4 linked regions of the Homo sapiens genome follow. The protein of the gene in region 1 purifies or fractionates together with the protein of each later gene. This does not show direct contact. Each region holds a gene or a part of one and is shown on either strand. Other genes may lie near its edges.

The links. The genes of interacting proteins can lie anywhere in the genome.
Region 2: the proteins of BHLHE23 (region 1) and LBR purify together in Homo sapiens (affinity purification with mass spectrometry; one large-scale study listed by BioGRID and IntAct). This does not show direct contact.
Region 3: the proteins of BHLHE23 (region 1) and LUC7L purify together in Homo sapiens (affinity purification with mass spectrometry; one large-scale study listed by BioGRID and IntAct). This does not show direct contact.
Region 4: the proteins of BHLHE23 (region 1) and SPTBN2 purify together in Homo sapiens (affinity purification with mass spectrometry; one large-scale study listed by BioGRID and IntAct). This does not show direct contact.

Annotation. Positions count from the first base shown.
Region 1 is NC_000020.11:63,004,430-63,009,158, forward strand, and holds BHLHE23 (class E basic helix-loop-helix protein 23), read right to left. Parts: upstream 2,536-4,729; 5' UTR 2,346-2,535; coding exon 1,620-2,345; 3' UTR 1,498-1,619; downstream 1-1,497. UniProt on the Homo sapiens protein: May function as transcriptional repressor. May modulate the expression of genes required for the differentiation and/or maintenance of pancreatic and neuronal cell types. May be important for rod bipolar cell maturation.
Region 2 is NC_000001.11:225,407,096-225,412,271, forward strand, and holds part of LBR (delta(14)-sterol reductase LBR), read right to left. Parts: intron 4,346-5,176; coding exon 4,242-4,345; intron 3,322-4,241; coding exon 3,196-3,321; intron 1-3,195. UniProt on the Homo sapiens protein: Catalyzes the reduction of the C14-unsaturated bond of lanosterol, as part of the metabolic pathway leading to cholesterol biosynthesis.
Region 3 is NC_000016.10:198,007-203,182, forward strand, and holds part of LUC7L (putative RNA-binding protein Luc7-like 1), read right to left. Parts: intron 1,233-5,176; coding exon 1,056-1,232; intron 1-1,055. UniProt on the Homo sapiens protein: May bind to RNA via its Arg/Ser-rich domain.
Region 4 is NC_000011.10:66,697,774-66,702,949, forward strand, and holds part of SPTBN2 (spectrin beta chain, non-erythrocytic 2), read right to left. Parts: intron 3,949-5,176; coding exon 3,811-3,948; intron 3,510-3,810; coding exon 2,753-3,509; intron 1,836-2,752; coding exon 1,633-1,835; intron 1,310-1,632; coding exon 1,219-1,309; intron 1,013-1,218; coding exon 866-1,012; intron 396-865; coding exon of another isoform or gene 72-395; exon of another isoform or gene 1-71. UniProt on the Homo sapiens protein: Probably plays an important role in neuronal membrane skeleton.

The DNA of each region.
Region 1 (4,729 bases):
AAATAAATGGCAATAAAATGCTTTATTCTGAATATAAATGATGTACCAATGTCTCTGATTTTAACCAGAATAAACACCCCTGTTTCAAATTCTGATAAGCAGGTAATTTATTTAAGATCACGTTGAAATGACCCTAGAAGTGAAGGGCATTTGAGTTTCCAGCTTTCCCACTTTATCTAAAAGGGGAAAAACGGTGTCTGGCACTCAGCTTTTCGAATGTGCAAAACTGATAAACTAGTCTGTTAGGGGAAAAAAAAAAGACAATGAAGAAATAAAAGTGGAAATTAGCAGAAACCAGTATTAGGCATATGTCTTTATGAATAAGACTTAACCATACACTTGATTTTGCAAGTACAGAAGGCCCTGTGGAATGTATTAATCAGAGTTAAACGCTGTAGACAGGCGCGTTGCAGGGCGGCGGCCCTCTCCCCTTGGCATTACCGACAGCCGAGGAAATTGGGTTAATAAAGCCGGATACTGCGGCGGGGCCGCGGGGCGCAAACCGGCGCGGACAGATGGGTCCCCGGGGGCACCCTGCCCGGCTCCCTGGATCCCGGATGGTGGCAGAGCTGGGAGCTGCGCAGGACGGGCACTGCGCAGCGCATCTCCGTTCACACCCGGCGGGGCACGGGGCCCGCAGCAGCTTACTCACCCGTAGCCCGGCCTCCTCCCTCGGAAGGGAGAGGGGATCGGTGGGGAGGGGGTTTGCTGGACACCAGGGCTAGACGGGGCCCTCCCCTGACCGTCAGGGTTAAGTAGGGCGCGGGCTGTGAGGACCCTCCTCCACGCAGCCCCCCGAGGCAGAGGGCCCGCAAAGCGGTCTCCATCCAACTCCACCCCGCGGACGTCCCAGGCAGCGGATGGCGGCGGGGGGGGGAGGCCAGGGGACATTTAGGGGACAAATTCCTCAGACTTCGAGGCAGCCGGCGACGGCGTCCAATTCCCAAATAAATAGAACAAACTCCTACTTGGAAAAGGCCTTCCCCGGGGTCTTCCTGCGCCCGCGGTCCAGCTCCTCTGCAGACGGCCATCGTGGGCTCTCCGCAGGGCTGCGGAGTCTCGGAGTCACCGAGGTGGGAGGTGCCGGCCACGCGCGTCCTCAGGAACAGAGCACTGCCCTGCAGTTTAGCACGAAGGGCCGGCTGGAGCGGGAGCGCGAGGCCCACTGCAAGAGGATCAGGAGCCAGTAAGTCCGGCTTTTCTTCGTCTCCACCTTTCGTGCGCCCGGGGCCAGGACCGCCTGTCCGGAATCTGACCAGTGCCCGTCCTCGCCGTGGCCCTGGGACCCCGCGGTGGTCTTCTTTTGGGGACGAACGGCAGTGCCCGAAGGATGCTCTACCCACCCCCGTTCCTAGACTTGCTGGGTCCCGACAATACCCAGTGGGTGCCGCGAGTTCCCGGGCGCAGAGTCCAGCGTCCGGCTCTCGAGCTCAATCCCGCGCCCCGACGGCCTTGGCGCTTCCCGCTGCGCTAAACTGTCCACCGCGCACAGGCTGGAAGCGAAGTCGGGCCCCCTCCTCCTGGTCTGCAGGGTCCCTCCAGGCCTTTCCTGTCCGGGCAGAGAGACAGTCACAGGGGCGATCGGAGGACGCGTGCGGGAGGGCCGGGGGCCCGCGCGGTCACGGCTTCTCGTGACAGTGTTTGCAAAGCGCGGAGGGCGTCCCGGAGAAGGCGGCGCACTTGTCAGGGCAGGGCCCCAGGGCGGCGCCTGCGGAGAAGGGGCACACAGTGGCCTGGCCGAAGGGCGTCAAGGGCGCGGCGTTTACGGGCGCGGCCAGGCCCTGGCCCTGGTTGAGGAAGGCCACCAGGCGCCGCATCTCGTCCAGGGCCTGCGCCTGCATGAGGATATAGTTCTTGGCGAGCAGCAGCGTGGCGATCTTGGAGAGCTTGCGCACCGACGGGCTGTGCGCGTAGGGGATGACGGCTCGCAGCCCGTCCAGCGCGTCGTTTAGGTCGTGCATGCGCCGCCGCTCGCGCGCGTTGATGCTGAGCCGCAGAGACCGCTGCTCTCGCGGCCGCCGCCGCCCGTCCGCCGCGCTCCCTGGCCCGCGCCGCCGCCGCCGCTGCTCGAAGGCGTCGTCCTCGTCCCCGCTCTGTTCGCCGCTGCTCTCCGCCGCCTGAGCTGGGGCGCGAGGTGCAGGCGCCGCGGGGAGGTCGCCGCCCGGGCCCGGAGTGCCGTAGCCGCGGGCCGCTTCGGGTTCTCGCGCCGCCCCGTAGGCGAGACCCGCAGCCGCCGCCGCGTAGCCGTGGCTTAGTGCCAGGTACGCGTCCCCCGACAGCGACTTGAGCTCGGCCATGGCCGCGCCGCCTGGGCTCGGGGGCTCGCCGGGTGGGCGGATGCTCATGTGGGTGAGCAGCCCCCGAGGCCGGCCCGAGCCCGCCGCTGCCGCTGCCGCTGCGATGAGGCTCCCGGCTCTGCGCGTCGGTCTGGCTTGCCTGCGGGTCCCAGAGCCTCGGCGCCCGCTGCCTCCTCCGCCTCTTCCTTCTCTCCCACCTCCTCTCCCTCCCAGCCGCGACGCGCAGGGGGCGGGCTCTACCTCCCCCTCGCCCCCGCTTCGGTTTTAAGCCGCGGAGGCGCCCGGTGGGACCTCGCTGCTGTCCAATCAGGGGGGACCGGGTGAGCTCCTCTTCCTGGAGCCGGGCTCCACCAGCGCCGCAGGCTCACAGGCCGGGGGTGGGGGCTCTGGACCGAGGGGCGGCGCGGGGCGGCGCGGGGCGGCGCGCGCGGTCCTGGAGCGCTAGTACTTGCTTCTCGACTCCCCGGCCGCCGCCTCCGGCCGCCCCGGGGATTCCGCCACCAAACGCACGCGTCCCAGGTGGGCACCCGCCTCGGTCCGTCTTTGAGTCTGACCCTAGCGCAAGAGTCCCTGGCGACACGCAGGGGCCAGAGCGGGGGGGCGCGCCGCAATAGCAGCAGCGCCAGCGCCAACACCCTGTCCCGCTGAGGGGCCGCTTCGGGTCGGGGTCAGGGTCGTGGGCGCTCTGGTGCAGCCGCGGCGCAGCGTGTACCCGGAGCCCGCACACTCCCTGCTCGGGGCGCCCTGTGGCCAGGCTTGAGGGGCAGAGTGAGAGGGAGTTTCTAGAACCTGTTGAAAAACGCCACGAGCGTTGCAGGCCGGGGAGGGCGGGAAGGTGGAGGGCAGCGCGGCCTGGGGCTCCCCGGGGGTGGGAGGGGAGCTCTGTGAGCTGCAGGACCGCCTCTTCCCTGCCAGCCGCTTCCTGGGCATCTATCAGCGAAACGCGTGAGGCTTGGTGGGCTTTCCCGGAGCCTCCGAACCCCTGGGGTCCAGCCACACTGGATGGGAATGTGGCCAGCCTCGGACTCGCCTTTTCAGTCCTCTTCCAACCCCGCATGAAGGCCAGAACCCCAGCCCTTCTCCCAGGTGGGAACCTGCCTGGAGGCCCGGCCGAGTGCTGAGGCTAGAGTGTGCTGAGGGATAGTGGCTTCTCCGGTCCTGGCTTGGGTGGGAGACTGGGCCACCCTGGCCTATGGCACGAGGTGGAGCGGCCCGTCGGGCCCTTCTGTGTGACCTGGGAAGGGCCGCATACCCTCCCTGTTCTCCAGGCTCCGCCCCAGGAGGAGCCACAGCGATGGGGCAGTGTGCGCAGCCCCGGGAGGGGAGTGGGAGCTGCACGTGTGTGGGGCGGATGTGCTGTCTGGAAGGTTCTGGGAACGCAGCAGTGACCGGCCTGTCCGGTGGTTCCCTGCCAGGTGCGGGGTGTGAGGAGACAGATGCATGGATAAGTCTCCGTGGGAAACTCAGGCCTTTGTCCTGGCGGAGGGGAATGGGTCTGAGGCAGCCTCTGCCGGGCTGGCGGCCTGTCTGGCTGCGCGTCCTGCAGCACCGGCCTCACCCCCAGCACACGCCCGCCAGGAGCGCAGGGGCCCCGAGGATGGAAGCGTCTGTCTGAGGCGCTGTCCTGGGACCCCACCCCGCCTTCGGGGCTGATGCACAGACCGGGAATTGAGGATACCTGGTGTGGAGGAGGCCGCTGTGTTTGGGCCTGGGTCTGAAGGGTGAGTGGGTGTCATTGTGGCCACGGGCCGGGGTCGGGGGAGCATTCAGGTGGCCGGAGGAGGCCTGGCACAGGGAAGGGCAGTGAGGGGCCCGGGTGGGGCCAGGAGATAGAGGGGCGGGACCAGGCCTGTGGGACAGTTTGAATCACGCGGGGAGTTTGGTCTTTATGGGAAGAAAGGCGCCGTGGCCATTCGGAGAGCCACTCTGGCACTGCTGCCGGTGCGGTCCGGGGCTGCGGGGCCTCCTCCTGGGCCTGAACTGCAGGGCTGGTGGGGGCCATGGGGGAAGGTGGCTCCACAGGTCCCCGGAGCTGGGGGAGCAGGAGGATGGGGTTGACCAGGAGGGAAAGCTATGGAGCTGGAGAATGCAGGAGGCCCCCGAGGGGAGGTGCAGCCAGCGCTGGTGGGGAGGCCTCTGAGGGGTACGCGGTAATTGACATCACGGGTGTGGGTGAGAGTGGCTTTCAAAGCATCGGCTGGAGCAGGGTCCCCATTAAAGCCAGAGACGCTGACGCCATGGGGCTGGGGTTGGGGCTGGGCCGGGGCTTTGGGAGGTCCGAACTCCCCAGCAGGGAGCCAGGGCTCTGGGCCAGTTCCCAGGCCCAGTTAATCTTCAGTAGAATCGATCGACCTTGGCTCAGAGGGTTGGAGGCAGGGATGGGCAGGGGGTGAGGGGTGAGGCGCACGAAACAGCACCCGGGTGAGGCCCCT
Region 2 (5,176 bases), on another chromosome or scaffold:
CCCTCTGCTGACAACCCCTCCTCCAACCTCCACATAGGCCCTACACCCTCTGCTGCCCTCCTGACCTGCTGCTCAGACCTGGGCACTTCTCAGATATCACCACCCACCAGTAGGCTGCAGTAATTGGGTTACTGTACTTGTCTAGTCACTCTTCACTACACTAAAAGCCTCTAAAAGACAGAGGCTGTGTGTTTTCACCTTTGCCACCCCAGTACCTAGCACAGTGCCCGCCATGGAGAGAAGTGTTCAAAATATGCTTGCTGAAGGAATAAGATCACCAACTCTTTTTGTTTCAATTCCACATGGACCAATCTAATTTCTGTTCATAATCTGGCATTTCATGTGCATTTTCCACAGAAGAAATTAAGCTGCCTGGCAACATGGTGAACTGACAGCTTCGCTTCTCATGTAAATTAATAAAAGTGCATTACTCCCTGGTGATTTGGTTAGCATGAGCCAGATCGCCTCTGGCCCAGGATACGGGCAGGCCAGACTCTAGAATACGGAACCACCACCAAGGTCAACACTCTGAAGGTCTGGCCTAAGGGAATCTCTAAACTACCCAGAACCTCAGTACAGACCACTGATGTAGAAATATTAGCCAGTATAAGCTCTGTTGGAGAATCAAAGTTCTAGGTTAAAGAAAAAGAGTGGTACCTCTAAATAGCATTTTTTTCCAGAAAAGAAAGCAAATAGGCCATGGAACAGAAAAACAGATGTCACATGAAACAGAAAAACCAATCTCACAAAATCTAGCTCCTTAGGCTTATACTCTTTAGTTAACCAGAGTACTTTATTCTCTTTAAAAAAAAAAATTGACATGTAATAATCGTACATATTTATGGGGTACACAGTGATGTTGCAATACATGTAATATATAGTAATCCAATCAAGGTAATTAGCATATCCATCATCTCAAACACATTCTTTCTTTGTGTTAGGAATATTCAATATCCTTCTAGCTATTTGAAACTATGTATCACTGTTAACTATAGTCATCCTACAGTGGTATAGAATACTAGAACTTAGAACTTACTCCTCCTATCGAGTGGTAATTTTGTATCCTTTAACAAACCTCTCCCTATCCTTCCCTTCCCCCTACCCTTCCCACCTTCCCATATCCTCTGTTCTACTTTATACTTCTATGACATCAACTTTTTTAGCGCCCACATATAAGTGAGGACACACGGTGTTTTAACTTTCTGTCCCCAAGAGTGTCTTATTCTTCTCTCTCAAGGCCTGTGATCTGATTCCTGGTCCAAAAGAGGATAAAGGTGACAAATTGGTGGGAGCAGATAAAAGCAGGTGTGGTGAGTGGCAGTGAGAGGGCAAAGGGTAAGCACCCAATGCCGGGTAGGGGGAGGACCTTAGCCCCACCAGCTCCTGAGCCCCAAGGCTTTCACAGGACGGCTCAGAGGAAGGGTCATGCATATTTAAACAGGTAGTCTCAGTTTTCTTAAGGTATAGCACATTCTTGAATACAGAGGGATTTCTATCAAGTGACCTGACAGAAGTTATTAAGCATCTGCTAATTGCCCAGTGGCATGCCAGAATGCTGAAGAAATCATAAAATACAATCTTTCCTCAAGAAGCTTATTATCATCTGGCTGAGATACTGAGAACAGACAGAAAACAATTTCCTAACTCTAGTTCTCTACCCCTGGGGCTATGTTAATATTGCATTAAGCGTTTTGCCTTAAGATGCAAAAAATTTTCTTTTAACACAAGTCAATGTTTGGCTAAATCTATAGAAAATATCAACTTCTAAGCCAATTAAAAAGTGACAACCACAACATGGCAGAAAGCTAGTAATAGAAGAAACCAGAAGAAATAATCACTGATCAGTGGAAAGCTACTAGAAAGGAAGGTTTAAAGAAGCCTCTGAGGTGAGCACAACTGTGAAATATCATTTGATTTGCAAACTGTAACCTATATGCTCTTTTGGCGATTCATTCTATAACAGCAAACAAAGCTACACTGGTAACAGTAAGTGCATTTACAAAACAGTTGTTTTTTAATTTCAAAAACATGTTTAATTTTGGGTCGACGTGGAATTTTTAAAGTCAATTTGAAGTGTTATCACCACCTTCACAGCTTCCCAAGCTCTGAGCCAGGGTCTGTGAAGTGGTAGGAGCGCAACAGGAACCCGTAATTAGCGGATAGCACTAATCCCACCGCTTGTAATTGAGGTTTACCTCAAAGTGGCCCTAATCTTCCTAAATAACAAGGAGATCATCGAAACACCAATATCAAACTTGCGAAGTTGTTCTGACTAAATGTTCTCTGCAATTTTGCATAGAAGGCCAAAATTAAAGACCAGCCAGCAGGGGTGGGGGAGATACATAGTATTGATGACCAAATAATATAATTTTTTTTAATGTTCCAGGCTCAAAGAGAAAAGGTCTTCTCTCAAAATGTCAGCAGATTGTCTCAACAGACTGTCACTAAAACTTGTTTTGGAACATTATGATGTACAGCTGCCAGATTTGTTTTTAATATGGAAAGAAAACTAGAGTTGGAATTTGGAGATAATTACAAAGATAACAGTAAATACGATAAAATACTTGTAAAATAAGCCTGAGGAAGACAAAATTTTTAAAAGGAATATGCTGGCTGAGACAGAGAAAACAAACAAAACATTTACCAGTCTTCAACTAGTAGAAAGACTAATCAATGTATGAAAAAAGACACAAGATGGAAACTTAGCCTTATTTCAACTGGTTTCCTCAATGCATCTTGATTTCTGATTTTACATTCATCTAATTAGAGCTAGTCTTTGTATTTTAAAACATTAACAATAAAACATCTCCCCCATTATTTAAAAACTAGGTGACTCTTGACAGTCCAAGAAACACCATTCTAATTTAGTAATAATCCATCCATTTTCATGTGATACCATAATTACCACCACCCACAAAAACAAAACCAAGATCCACCAATCTTAAATATTTAGAATATTACTTTTAAACACAAGAACAGCTGATAAACACTGAAGCACTCCCAAATGCCTAGAAACTTCCCACCTGTCAGTGCTCCCTCGTCAGCTTCACATGGATGGCCTCGTCCTCCTCTCAAGCAGCCTTGGAGGCAGGCCATGCTCCCCTCACTTTGTGTGCAAGAAGCCGAGGCTCTGACAGGTCACTCACCCACTCAAAGCCATCTGACTCCAAGGCCTCGGCTCTTAAAATTAATTACCTCATTCCAGAGAGCATCCACCACATAGAGAAGCTGGAAACTATTAACTAAAATCATGGCCAAGGATGGAACAGCGCGGTCCTGTATTTTCATTTCAGCCAAAAGCATCACCAAGTTAATAACCACCTGAAACAAAAGGGGAAAGTATATAGCCTCAAAGCACCTCCCCAGAGACCTTAGCACTACAAAGGCATGAGTGAGCTTCACAGCTGAGACACCTGGCAGACGCCACCGTAACTCCTACCCGCCACCAGGAATAAGACATCTCAGCACCATGGGCCCCTGGACCCAATGCACTGAGAAGGACACAGCTATCATTTCTGTGTTCCTGTCACAGTGGGTAACTTTACCGCAATCAAAGAGAACACTGGAATGACCCAAACTGAGGGACACTTACAAAATAACCAACCAGTACCTTCCAAAAAGTATCAAGGTCATGAGAGACAAGGAAAGCCTAAACAACTATTAGACTAGAGAAGACTAAGAAGGAATAACAACTAAATGTATTGTGGAGTCCTGTCGAGGTTCCTGGAACAGAAAAAGGACAACAGCGGAAAAACTGGTGAACTCGACTGAGGCCTGTGGACTTGGTAACCAATGCTGTCACTATGTTAATCTGCTGTTCTTCATCACTACACTACGGTTTCCTCCAAGGTTAATGTTGTGAGAAACAGAATGAAGGGTGGAAGGGAACTCTTTGCTCTCTATCTGCAACTCCAAGCCTAAAACTAGGTAAAATTTAAAAAGGAGGAAAATGCATTTTTTCTTACATTAATTCATCCACACTATCACTTTCCTACATAAATATAAACTGATATAATAAAAATAAAGCAAAGAAAAGTTATTTAATTTGTCATAACCTGTAACAGGGCATCTTAAACCTCTGGAAAATACTTACAAGAAAGTATTTTGATAGATTTATGGAAAGCCATAATTATCCCTAAAAATATACCACCCACTGCTTATTTTTGAATGGTCTACATTTCTTTCTAGCAGTTAATTAGACCTATTGAATTGAAATTTAGAAGAAAAAAAACCAGACATACCCATCCAATCAATCCGGGGCGCAATTCACAAAAGTATTTGAGATCAAAAGTACCAATTCGAGGGTTTAATTCACGGCCAATGAAGAAATCATAGACAGCATTTCCTGAGAAAGGAAAAGTGTTTACCCAAACAGCATTCCAAACCCAGTCAGGAGGCTTTACAACGGCACTGCCGCCCACTATCCAGGCTCACAATTCCACTGCCTGCAAGACCCTGAGCAGGGCTCTGGTGGTGAGAGGCAGACAGGACGGCACAGACGAGCGGAACCAGGAGATGCCTGCCCGACTGAAAAGGCAGTTGCTCCAGCCTTTGGGGGAGCCGGGGGCCCAGGTTTCTTAAAAAAGTTAACCAAAATCATGGGGGCCCCCCCAAAGGACTTTACACTCCATTTTTTTTAGATAGGCGACATTTTTTTATATTGAAATACTTCAGGTCAGCATCAACCAATTTGTAACCTCTCGTTTCTCTTGTTTTTTGTTTGTTTTGTTTTGAGATGGAGCCTCGCTCTGTGGCCCAGGCTACAGTGCAGTGGCACAGTCTCGGCTCACTGCAACCTCCGCCTCCCACGCTCAAGCGATTCTCTTGCCTCAGCCTCCCGAGTAGATGGGATTATAGGTGTGCACCACCACGCCCAGCTGATTTTTGTATTTTTAGTAGAGATGGGGTTTCACCATATTGGCCAGGCTGGTCTCAAACTCCTGACCTCAGGTGATCCACCCGCCTTGGCCTCCCGAAGTGCTGGGATTACAGGCATGAGCCACCTCACCCGGCCAGTAACCTCTGTTGTTTTTTGTTTTTTAAAGAGTGTTTACTATTTTGGACAAAGAAATAATATTTGTCATAAGTCAAAATGCCTGTAAGTTTACTAAACGTCTTACTGTCATCAAGCAACTGCAAAAAAAAGAAATGAGTAAGAAAGTATGAAGGTAAAACA
Region 3 (5,176 bases), on another chromosome or scaffold:
GCCTGTGGTCCCAGCACTTTGGGAGGCTGAGGCGGGCGGATCGCGAGGTCAGGAGATCGAGACCATCCTGGCAAACACGATGAAGCCCCGTCTCTACTAAAAATACAACAACAACAACAAAAATTAGCCGGGCGTGGTGGCAGGCACCTGTAGTCCCAGCTACTGTGGAGGCTGAGGCAGGAAAATGGTGTGAACCTGGGAGGCGGAGCTTGCAGTAAGCCGAGATTGGGCCACTGCACTCCAGCCTGGGCGACAGAGCGAGACTCCATCTCAAAAAAAAAAAAAAAAAAAAAAAAAAAAGTTTTTAAATGTCTTAGAGTCTTGAAGAAGGAACAGAGGTTTTCTCTGGGCTGGGATGGTACAATGCTACCAGAAAAACCCCATCTTCACCCCGCCCTTCTGAGGTGGCTCATAGGCAAGGAGCCAGGATGTGTGACACTCTGTCTTGACCAACCAGAGATTCTTTCTCATCTCCTAACAGAAGTTATTTCAGAGATACACAACGAGCTGTATGTATTCTGGGAACAGGCTCTGCCATTTTCTTCCCTTAACGACAGGGTCCAAAATAAATCTCCAAGGCTCCTTTGGACTCTGAGCTATCATGTCTCTTGTGTGAATCCAAGTGATGAAATCTGCGTATTTCACTATAAAACTCAAGTTCTTAGAGATCAGAACATAATGTTTTTTGTTTTTTTTTTGAGATGGAGTCTTACTCTATAGCCCAGGCTGGAATGCAATGGCATGATCTCGGCTCACTGCAACCTCTGCCTCCTGGGTTTAAGCAATTCTTCTGCCCCAGCCTCCCGAGTACCTAAGATTACAGGCTCACACCAACACACCTGGCTAATTTTTCGGTAGAGACGGGGTTTCACCATGTTGGTCAGGCTGGTCTCGAACTCCTGACCTCAGGTGATTCGCCCACCTCGGCCTCCCAAAGTGCTGGGATTATAGGCATCAGCCACCACGCCCGGCCAAAACATAAGGTTTTTAAAAATTAAAGAAATGTGAAAACACCCCAAGACTCCTCAGCTTTCTCCAGAAACAGATGAACATACCCTCAACTGATCAAGCTTCTCTCGGATCTGAATGAACCCCAAGTGTAACTTGCCACCGAAGTGGTCTGCCAGGCGACGGTCATTGTCATGGAGACCAAGGTAGGCTGAACAGACCTCGCAGACACGCAGCTTTTGCTGCTGAAAACTGGATGCAGGCATGGAATTTCTGTATTCTTCCTGAAGAAGGAAAATGGAGAAATAAAAGTGAGGTATATAGAACTGCCACCACAAATTCAATCTCCAAAATGAAAATATTTGATAAGATGACAGAGGTGACTTTTAAACAAATATTAAAAAAACACAAACAAAACTTCAGATATTTATAACCAACTCAATTTTCACTGTTTATTTAAGAAACGCGGCCAGGCACGGTCCCAGCACTTTGTGAGGCCAGGTGGGCGGACCATGTGGTCAAGAGATCAAGACCAGGCCAGGCGCGGTGGCTCACGCCTGTAATCCCAGCACTTTGGGAGGCTGAGGCTGGCGGATCACCTGAGGTCCGGAGTTCAAGATCAGCCTGACCAACATGGAGAAACCCCATCTCTATTAAAAATACAAAAGTAGCCGGGTGTGGTGGCGCATGCCTGTAATCCCAGCTATTCTGGAGGCTGAGGCAGGAGAATGGCTTGAACTCGGGAGGCGGAGGTTGCTGTTGAGCTGAGATCGCACAGGCAACAAGAGCAAAACCCTGTCTCAAAAAAAAAAAAAAAAAAAAAAAGAGAGATCGAGACCATCCTGGCCAACTTTGTGAAACCCCGTCTCTACTAAAAATACAAAAATCAGCTGGGTGTGGTGGCACATGCCTGTAGTCCCAGCTACTCAGGAGGCTGAGGCAGGAGAATCACTTGAACCTGGGAAGCGGAGGTTGCAGTGAGCCAAAACCGTGCCACTGCATTCCAGCCTGGCAACAGAGCGAGACTCCATCTTAAAAAAAAAAGGTACTAACAGGCTGGGCTCAGTGGCTCACGCCTGTAATCCCAGCATTCCGAGGCCAAGGCAGACAGATCACTTGAGGCCAGGAGTTCAAGACGAGCCTGGCAACATAGCAAAACCCTGTCTCTACTAAAAATACAAAAATTGGCCGGGCGCGGTGGCTCACGCCTGTAATCCCAGCACTTTGGGAGGCTGAGGCAGGCGAATCATGGGGTCAGGAGATCACGACCATCCTGGCTAACACGGTGAAACCCCGTCTCTACTAAAAAAACAGAAAAAATTAGCTGGGCGTGGTGGCGGGCGCCTGTAGTCCCAGCTACTCAGGAGGCTGAGGCAGGAGAATGGCGTGAACCCGGCAGGCGGAGCTTGTAGTGAGCCAAGATCATGCCACTGGGCGAAAGAGCGAGACTCCGTCTCAAAAGAAAAAAAAAAAAAAAAAGCCAGATGGTGGCAGGCATCTGTAATTCCAGCTACTGGAGAGGCTGAGGCACAAATTGTTTAAGCCCAGGAGGTGGAGGTTGCAGTGAGCTGAGATCACACCACTGCATTCCAACCTGGAGGACAGAGGAAAACTCCAAAAAGGAAAAAAAAAAAATTGTATTCCAGGCCTGGTGTAGTGACTCACACCTATAATCTCAGCACTTTAGGAGAGTGAAGCAAGAAGATCACTTGGCCCCAGGAGATTGAGATCACCCTGAGCAACACAGCAAGACTCAGTCTCTAAAAATAAGAAAATAATTAGCCCGCTGTGGTGGCACGTGCCTATAGTCCCACCTACTCAAGAGACTGATTCGAGAGGACTGCTTGAGCCCAGGAGGTTGAAGGGGCAGTGACCTGTGACTGCGCCACTGTACTTCAGCCTGGGTGACCCTGGCTGACAGCAGGACCCTCTAATATTAAAAAAAATAGGCTGGGCACAGTGGCTAACACCTGCAATCCCAGCACTTTGGGAGGCCAAGGCAGGTGGATCACAAGGTCAGGAGTCCGAGAAGGTGAAACCCCGTCTCTATTAAAAATACAAAAAAATTAGCTGGGCACGGTGGCTGGCACCTGTAATCCCAGCTACTCGGGAGGCTGAGTCTGAGAATTACTTGAACCCGGGAGTCAGAGGATGCAGTGAGCCGAGATCGCACCACAGCAATCCAGCCTGGGCGACAGAGCGAGACTCTGTCTGAGAAAAAAAAAAAAAAAAAAGTAGACAAGGAACTAGCAAGAACTTGAATTTCCATTATAGTATGCTACATAACTAAAAAAAAAAAAAAAAAAAAAAAACTTAAGCAAAAACAATATTGTGGTACACAAATATTCATAACATTACTCTGTCCCCTTCTATAGTTTTGAAACCTTAAATGCCACCTTCTAACATCTTTCAAAATAAACTCTGATTATGTTGAGTAAAAAAAGTCAGTCCCAAAAGGTTACCTACTGTATGATTCCATTTACATAACTTTTTTTTTTTTTTTGAGACGGAGTCTCGCTCTGTCGCCCAGCCTGGAATGCAGTGGCACGATCTCAGCTCACTACAAGCTCTGCCTCCCGGGTCCACACCATTCACCTGCCTCAGCCTCCTGAGTAGCTGGGACTACAAGCGCACGCCGCCACGCCCGGCCAATTTTTTGTATTTTTAGTAGAGACGGAGTATCACCATGTTAGCCAGGATGGTCTCGATCTCCTGACCTCGTGATCCACCCGCCTCAGCCTCCCAAAGTGATGGGATTACAGGCGTGAGCCACCGCACCAGGCTTTTTTTTTTTTTTTTTTTTTTTTGAGAGAGAGTCTTGCTCTGTCACCCATATTGGAGTGCAATGGCACGATCTCTGTTCGCTGCAACCTCCGCCTTCTGGGTTCAAGCGATTCTCCTACTTCAGCCTCCCAAGTAGCTGGGATTACAGGTGCCCGCCACCACACCTGGCTAATTTTTATACTTTTAGTAGAAATGGGGTTTCACCAAGTTGGCCAGGCTGGTCTCGAACTCCTGACCTCAGGTGATGCACCTACCTTGGCCTCCCAAAGTGCTGGGATTACAGGCATGAGCAACCGTGCCCGGCCATATTTTTAATTTCTTTGTAAAGATGGGGTATCCCTATGTTGCCCAGGCTGGTCTCAAACTCCTGGACTCAAGCAATCCTCCTGCCTCGACCTTCCAAAGTGTTGAGATTACAGGCATGAGCCACCATACCCACCCTCCATAAGCTTTTACGCTGGGCAGAAGGCAGCAAAAGGGGAGTCAGCATATCACATGGCAAAAGAAGGAGTGAGACAGAGAGAAGGACCTAGGCTCCTTTAAACAATCAGCTCTGAGGTGAACTCACTATCCCAGGGAGGGCACCAAGCCATTGATGAGTGAACCACCCCCATGACCCAAACACCTCCCACTAGACCCCACCTCCAACATTGGAGGTCACATTTCAACATGAGATTTGGACGTGCCACACATCCAAACCGTATCAAGTGTTATTTTTTATCTTTTATACTGTATTTTTACTGTACCTTTTCTATGTTTACGTACACAAATATTTAGGGGCCCACTGTGTTGCAACTGCCTATAGTATTCAGCACAGTAACATGCTGTACAGGTGTGGAGCCTAGGAGCAATGGGCTCTACCATACAGCCCACATGGCTATACCACCCAGGTTTGTTAAGCACACTCTATAATGTTCTCACAATGATGAACCATGGAACGCACTTCTCAGAATATTTAATCCTTGTCATTAAGAAAGATATGACTGTACTAATATCAGAAATGAAAGACAGGACATCATTACGGATCCACCCACTTTAAAGGAATAATACAAACAACTCTTAAAAACAACAACTCCATGCCCACAAAAGCGATAAACTAGATGAAATGGACCGATCCCTTCAAAGACAGCCAGGAGCAGTGGCTCACGCCTGTAATCCCAGCACTGTGGGAGGCTGAGGCAGGTGGATCACTTGAGGTCAGGAGTTTGAGACCAGCCTGACCGACATGGTGAAACCCCGTCTTCTCTACTAAAAATACAAAAATTAGCTGGGCATGGTGGCAGGCACCTGTAATCTCAGCTGCTCAGGAGGCTGAGGCAGGATAATCAGTTGAACCCAGGAGTTGGAGGTTGCAGCGAGCCATCGCACCACCGCACTCCAGCCTGGGCAACAGAGAGAGACTCCGTGTAAAAAAAAAGTATAATAATGTTGAAAGACACAATCT
Region 4 (5,176 bases), on another chromosome or scaffold:
TATCCTGGCTACAGTGTTGTTCCTTCAGGGTGGAGCCTACCATGGGATCCCTTTCGGACCCCACGCAGGGCCTAATACAATGCTTTGGATATAGTAGCACCAAGTAAATATTTGCTGAACGAATGGAAACACTTGAAAGCACACTGGTCTCCTTTTGTCCCAACCATCATGCCCTTGAGAAAAGGAAAGTGTCTTTTCGTAGACCCTGCAGTGCCTCGCAGACTGTTGAGCACGTACCATGTTCTGTAGGGATACTTGCTGAGCAGATATAAAGCTTTATCTGTCCTTGACTCTTGAGGAACAGCTGGGTGGGAGACCAAGAACCAGGGACGGCAAGACTCGAAAATAAGGATTGGCAGACTACATACAGCCCACGGGGTAATCTGGCCCACTGCCTGTTTTTACAAATAAAGTTTTATTGGGAAACAGCCATGTTCATTCATTCACTTATTCTCTGAGGCTGCTTTTGCACTACAACGACAGAGATGAGTAGTTGTAGTAGAAACTGTTTGGACTGCAAAGCCTCAGATATTGACCATCCAGCCCAAGCCCTTTCCAGACAAGGTTTGCAGAGCCTGCTGAAGAGCACCATCCTGCTTTGAACTCAGGAACAGTTATGGCGTTAAATCCAGGCTGCAGTTTCGCTACCTGCTAATTTGTACTTTATCAAGGTTCTGGACTCACTGTCCCACTCTTTGTCTCCAACAAAGACGTTTGTTTCCCAGAGGCCATAACTTTCCACCATGGAGCTGTGGCACCAGAACCCCACAATCTCTAACCATGACAAAAACCACGTCCTGGAGCCAGGCCCTCCCCCGTACCATGGGGGACTCTGCCCAGAGGCAGCCCCCACAGCACTGCTCACCTTGTCCACCTTGTCCAGCCAGTCTTTGTTGGCAGCCAGCTCGGCCATGAATGCCTGGTGCTTCTGCCACTTAGTATGCAGGTTGCGGGCCTCGTCATAGGACACGTCCTGGGCTGTCAGCATCTTCTCGTCGATCCAGAGCTTCAGCTGGACCAAACATAAAACAGGGACATTTCCAAGGGAGGGGAGAGGGGGGCATAAAAGCAGGGCCACAGTGAGCCAGGAGAAGTGGGCGCCTTGGGAAGAAGCCATGAAGGGGCTCACAGTCTCCGGTACCTTGTGCTGGACTTATTCTAGGCTCAAGGTGAGAAAGGGATGGCTAGGGAATATCCCGGGGCCCCAGGGAGCCTCACCTCGTGACAATCTTGCAGGAAATGCTGCTGCTCCCGGTTGTCCCGAAGACGGCCCAGAAATTGCTGCGCTGCGTCTTGATTCTTCTTGTGCCTGGAACGACACCCTCTTGTGAAACTCTGGAATTTGCTGTGAAAGGATTGTGACCCTTTGGCTAACCTAGGGGCCTCCATTTCTTCTAGGGGAATAACGCCTTCCGGGAGCACAATGAGGCTACCCAGGAATCCTGACTTCCTTTTAGCCCTGGTTGGGGGTGGAATCTCCCAGCCCTCTCCAACCACTTAGTTCTTCCCCTCTACTTCTCTGTCAGCTCCTGCCCCATCTGTGGGTTTCCTGTGCCACGTTTATCTTTGAGGTCACCCTGTTTCTCCGATTCCCCCCTGGGAACCCTAATTCATGGACTGTCCTCATCAGACCTCCTCTCAATGGAGTCTGCCTTTTCCCGAATCTTGTCGGCGTGGATGTTGCCTTCAGATACCAGCTGGCGGCCAGCCTCCAGGAGCCCGTGGATCCGTTCCCCATTGGCGTCCATGGTGCTCATGAAGTCCTCCAGTTTTTTAATGGCAGCATCAGCAGCCTGGAGTGTCCCTGGCATCTCCGTGTGAGACAGAACATATTCCTGTGTGGGAGGGATGACATTCAGCTCATTTTCCCCAGCACAATTCACCCCCCTAGGAGGGACCCACCCAGGGGCAAATCTGAGAGGTAGGGACCAACAAGCAGACAGGGAGGGTAGCCCAGAGAGCTCTGAAGACAGGGAGGCTGCCAGCCAGCATGGGAGCCTCAGAAAGTCACAGGGAAGCTGGGTGGGAAGGACCTTCCATTCCCCAGCCCAAATCCTGTTCTATCTCACTTCTAGCTCCTGATTCCATTTAACAGTTACATGACAAACTGGGCTTTCTATTTCTTCTAAAGTCAGTTTTAGTAAATTATATTCACGTCTTTTTCATTCTCATTTTTCCTTCTTTTTTCTTTTTCTTTTTTTTGAGAGAGGGTTTCATTCTGTGGCCCAGGTTGGAGTGCAGTGGCATATCATAGCTCACTGCAGCCTCAAACTCCTGGCTCCAGTGATCCACCAGCCTCAGCCTCCCCAGTAGCTGGAGCTACAGGCATGCACCACCATGTCCAGTTAATTTTTTTTTTTCATAGAGATGGGGGTCTCACTATGTTGCCCAGGCTGGTCTCAAACTCCTGAGCTCAAGTTATTCTCCTGCCTCGGCCTCCCAAAATACTGGGAGTACAAGTGTGAGCCATCCTGTCTGGCTCCCATTTTTCTTTTTAAAAAATTCTTCTATTTTCTTAAAAAAATTTTTTTGTAGAGACAAGGTCTTGCCATGTTGCCCAGGTTGGTCTGGATATTCTCAGCCTCAAGTGATCCTCCTACTTTGGCCTCCCAAAGTGCTGGAATTTCAGGTGTGAACCACTGCGCTGCCCCATTTTGCTAGCATGTCCTTCCTGCCCATCCTGCTCCTTCACATTTCCCCGGGTCCCTACTTTGCTCTTCCTCCTGCTTGGGACTTTGCCCTGGACTTTCACCTGGCTGCTGAGCACGCCCTCAGCCTGACGAGCATCCCGCAGGAATCCCTGGAAGCCGTGGGCCTGGGCCAGGCGACCTTGCCGGCTCTCCCACATTCGGCCCAGCTCCTCCCAGCCAGTTCCCAGGGCCTCCAGTCGCTGTCGTAGGAAGAGGCACTGGGGGTCAGCCTGGTCCCGGGTCACCTCCTCGCCCAGGGCTCGCAGCCGGCTATACTCGCTCTGGGCCCGCTCCACCTCTCCCCGCAGGGCTGCATGTTGGGCCAGGAGGGCCTCTGCCTCAGGCAGGGTGGCCGGCCCTTCTTCAGAGGCCACAGCAGTCTGAGTGCGGCCTAGCCAGGCCTGGAAGTCATCCAAGCTGCGCAAGAAGTCCTGCAGCCGCCGCGCCTCCCCCAGCGACTCTTCTCGACGCCGCATGGTGGCCCTGAGGTCCTCCCAGCCGGTCTGCACCTCTCTCAGCCGGGCGTTGATGGCCACTGCCTGAGCGGGATGGCCGGCAGCCAGGGCATTTGCCTCTCGAGTCAGTTCGCCCACCCGGGCGGCGATGGCCTCCAGGTCCCGCTCCGTGCCGGCCAGCTTGCGCTGCAGGGCCAGCACCCCAGCCAGATCGTTGCCTAGGCCCTGGGTGGACTCGATGACTTTGGTCTTCTCTCTCATCCAGGCCTGGGTCTCCGTGCACTCTAAGTGGTAGTTCTGGATGCTCAGGGCTGAGGTGAGAGCTGCCTTCTTGCCGTCTGCCAGACGCCGAAACTGCTGCCACCTGAGAGCAGGGGGAAGGTTCAGCTTCCTGCCCTGGCCAGGCCTGTTTGGAAGCTTCTTCCCTGCTTCTCTCTCTCTTGGTAGCTCCCCTTCACTCCTCCCTTTCTGGCCAGCAGCCGCTTCAGACCACCTTGACCCCCTCTCTCATCTCTTTCATCCTTTTTCCTTCCCCAACATATTCCAGACTGGTTTGCTTCCTCCTTTGTAGCCACCCTTCCAGGCCCTACAAAACCTGCCTCTCACTGCCATCCCCATTGCTTCATTTTTCTGTCAGTTTCCTGGTCCTGCCCTCCCAAACCCACCTGTGGTTGAGCTGCTCCTGGGTGTTGACAATGCGGTCTTTGCCTGGGGGGTTGGCCTTCAGTAACTGCTCGGCAATGTCATTCACCGCGGTGATTTGTGCTGCAAGGGTGTTCATTTCAGGCTCCAGGGTCTCGAACCTGAGAGGGTGGAAGAGCCAGGCGTGAATTGTGGGAGGCAGCGATGTGCCCAGTCCACCTAAGTCCACCTCTCTTAAACACCCAGGAGGGTGTCTCCTTCACCAGGAGGCTTATCTGCAGGAGTCTCTCTGCCTCTCAGCCTATGAGGTTCATAGTATCTGTGCATCAAGGAAGGAACCCACAACTCCCCCAAAACAAGCAGAATAACTGTCATCGCTAGAAATGCTCAAAAGATGGTGAAAGGTAAAGGTCAGGAACAGACACACAAGTCAAACTAGACCCTGGCATGGGGCCAACCCTTTATCAGAGCTGCTCAGCCTCCTGGGACTTCCCCCTTAGCTGCCTATCTGGGTCTCATCCCACTAATATGTGTTAGAAAATGAAGTAATAACCAAAAATATTTGTCTGAGTGATGAAAATGTGAAGGATAACTTCTTCCAGGGACATTTTATGTTTTGTTTTTGAGATGGAGTCTCGCTCTGTCACCCAGGCTGGAGTGTAGTGGTGCAATCTCGACTCACTGCAACCTCCGCCTCCCGGGTTCAAGCAATTTTCTGCCTCCGCTTCCCGAATAGCTGGGATTACAGGTGCCCGCCACCAAGCCTAGCTAATTTTTGTATTTTTGGTGGAGACGGGTGTTTCACTATCTTGGCCAGGCTGGTCTTGAACTCCTGACCTCATGCTCCACCCGCCTTGGCCTCCCAAAGTGCTGGGATTACAGGCGTGAGCCACCTCGCCTGGCCGACATTTGATGTTCTAATAGGGCAGGGTCTGCAAATGTTTTCTGTGAAGGGCTTGATGGTAAATATTATAGGCTTCGTGAGCCATGCAGCTGCTGCGGCAACTATTCAGCCCTGCTGCTGTAGCCTGAAAGCAGCCACGGGCAATACGCAAAAGGGCGAGTGTAGCTCTGTTCCAGTAAAACTTTATTTACAGACCGGGCATGGTGGCTCACGCCTGTAATCCCAGCACTTTGGGAGGCTGAGATGGGTGGATCACAAGGTCAGGAGATCGAGACCATCCTGGCTAACACGGTGAAACCTCGTCTCTACTAAAAATACAAAAAATTAGCCAGGTGTGGTGGCGGGTGCCTGTAGTCCCAGCTACTTGGGAGGCTGAGGCAGGAGAATGGCGTGAACCCGGGCGGCGGAGCTTGCAGTGAGCCAAGATTGTGCCACTGCACTCCAGCCTGGGGGACAGAGCAAGACTCCGTCTCAAAAAAAAAAAA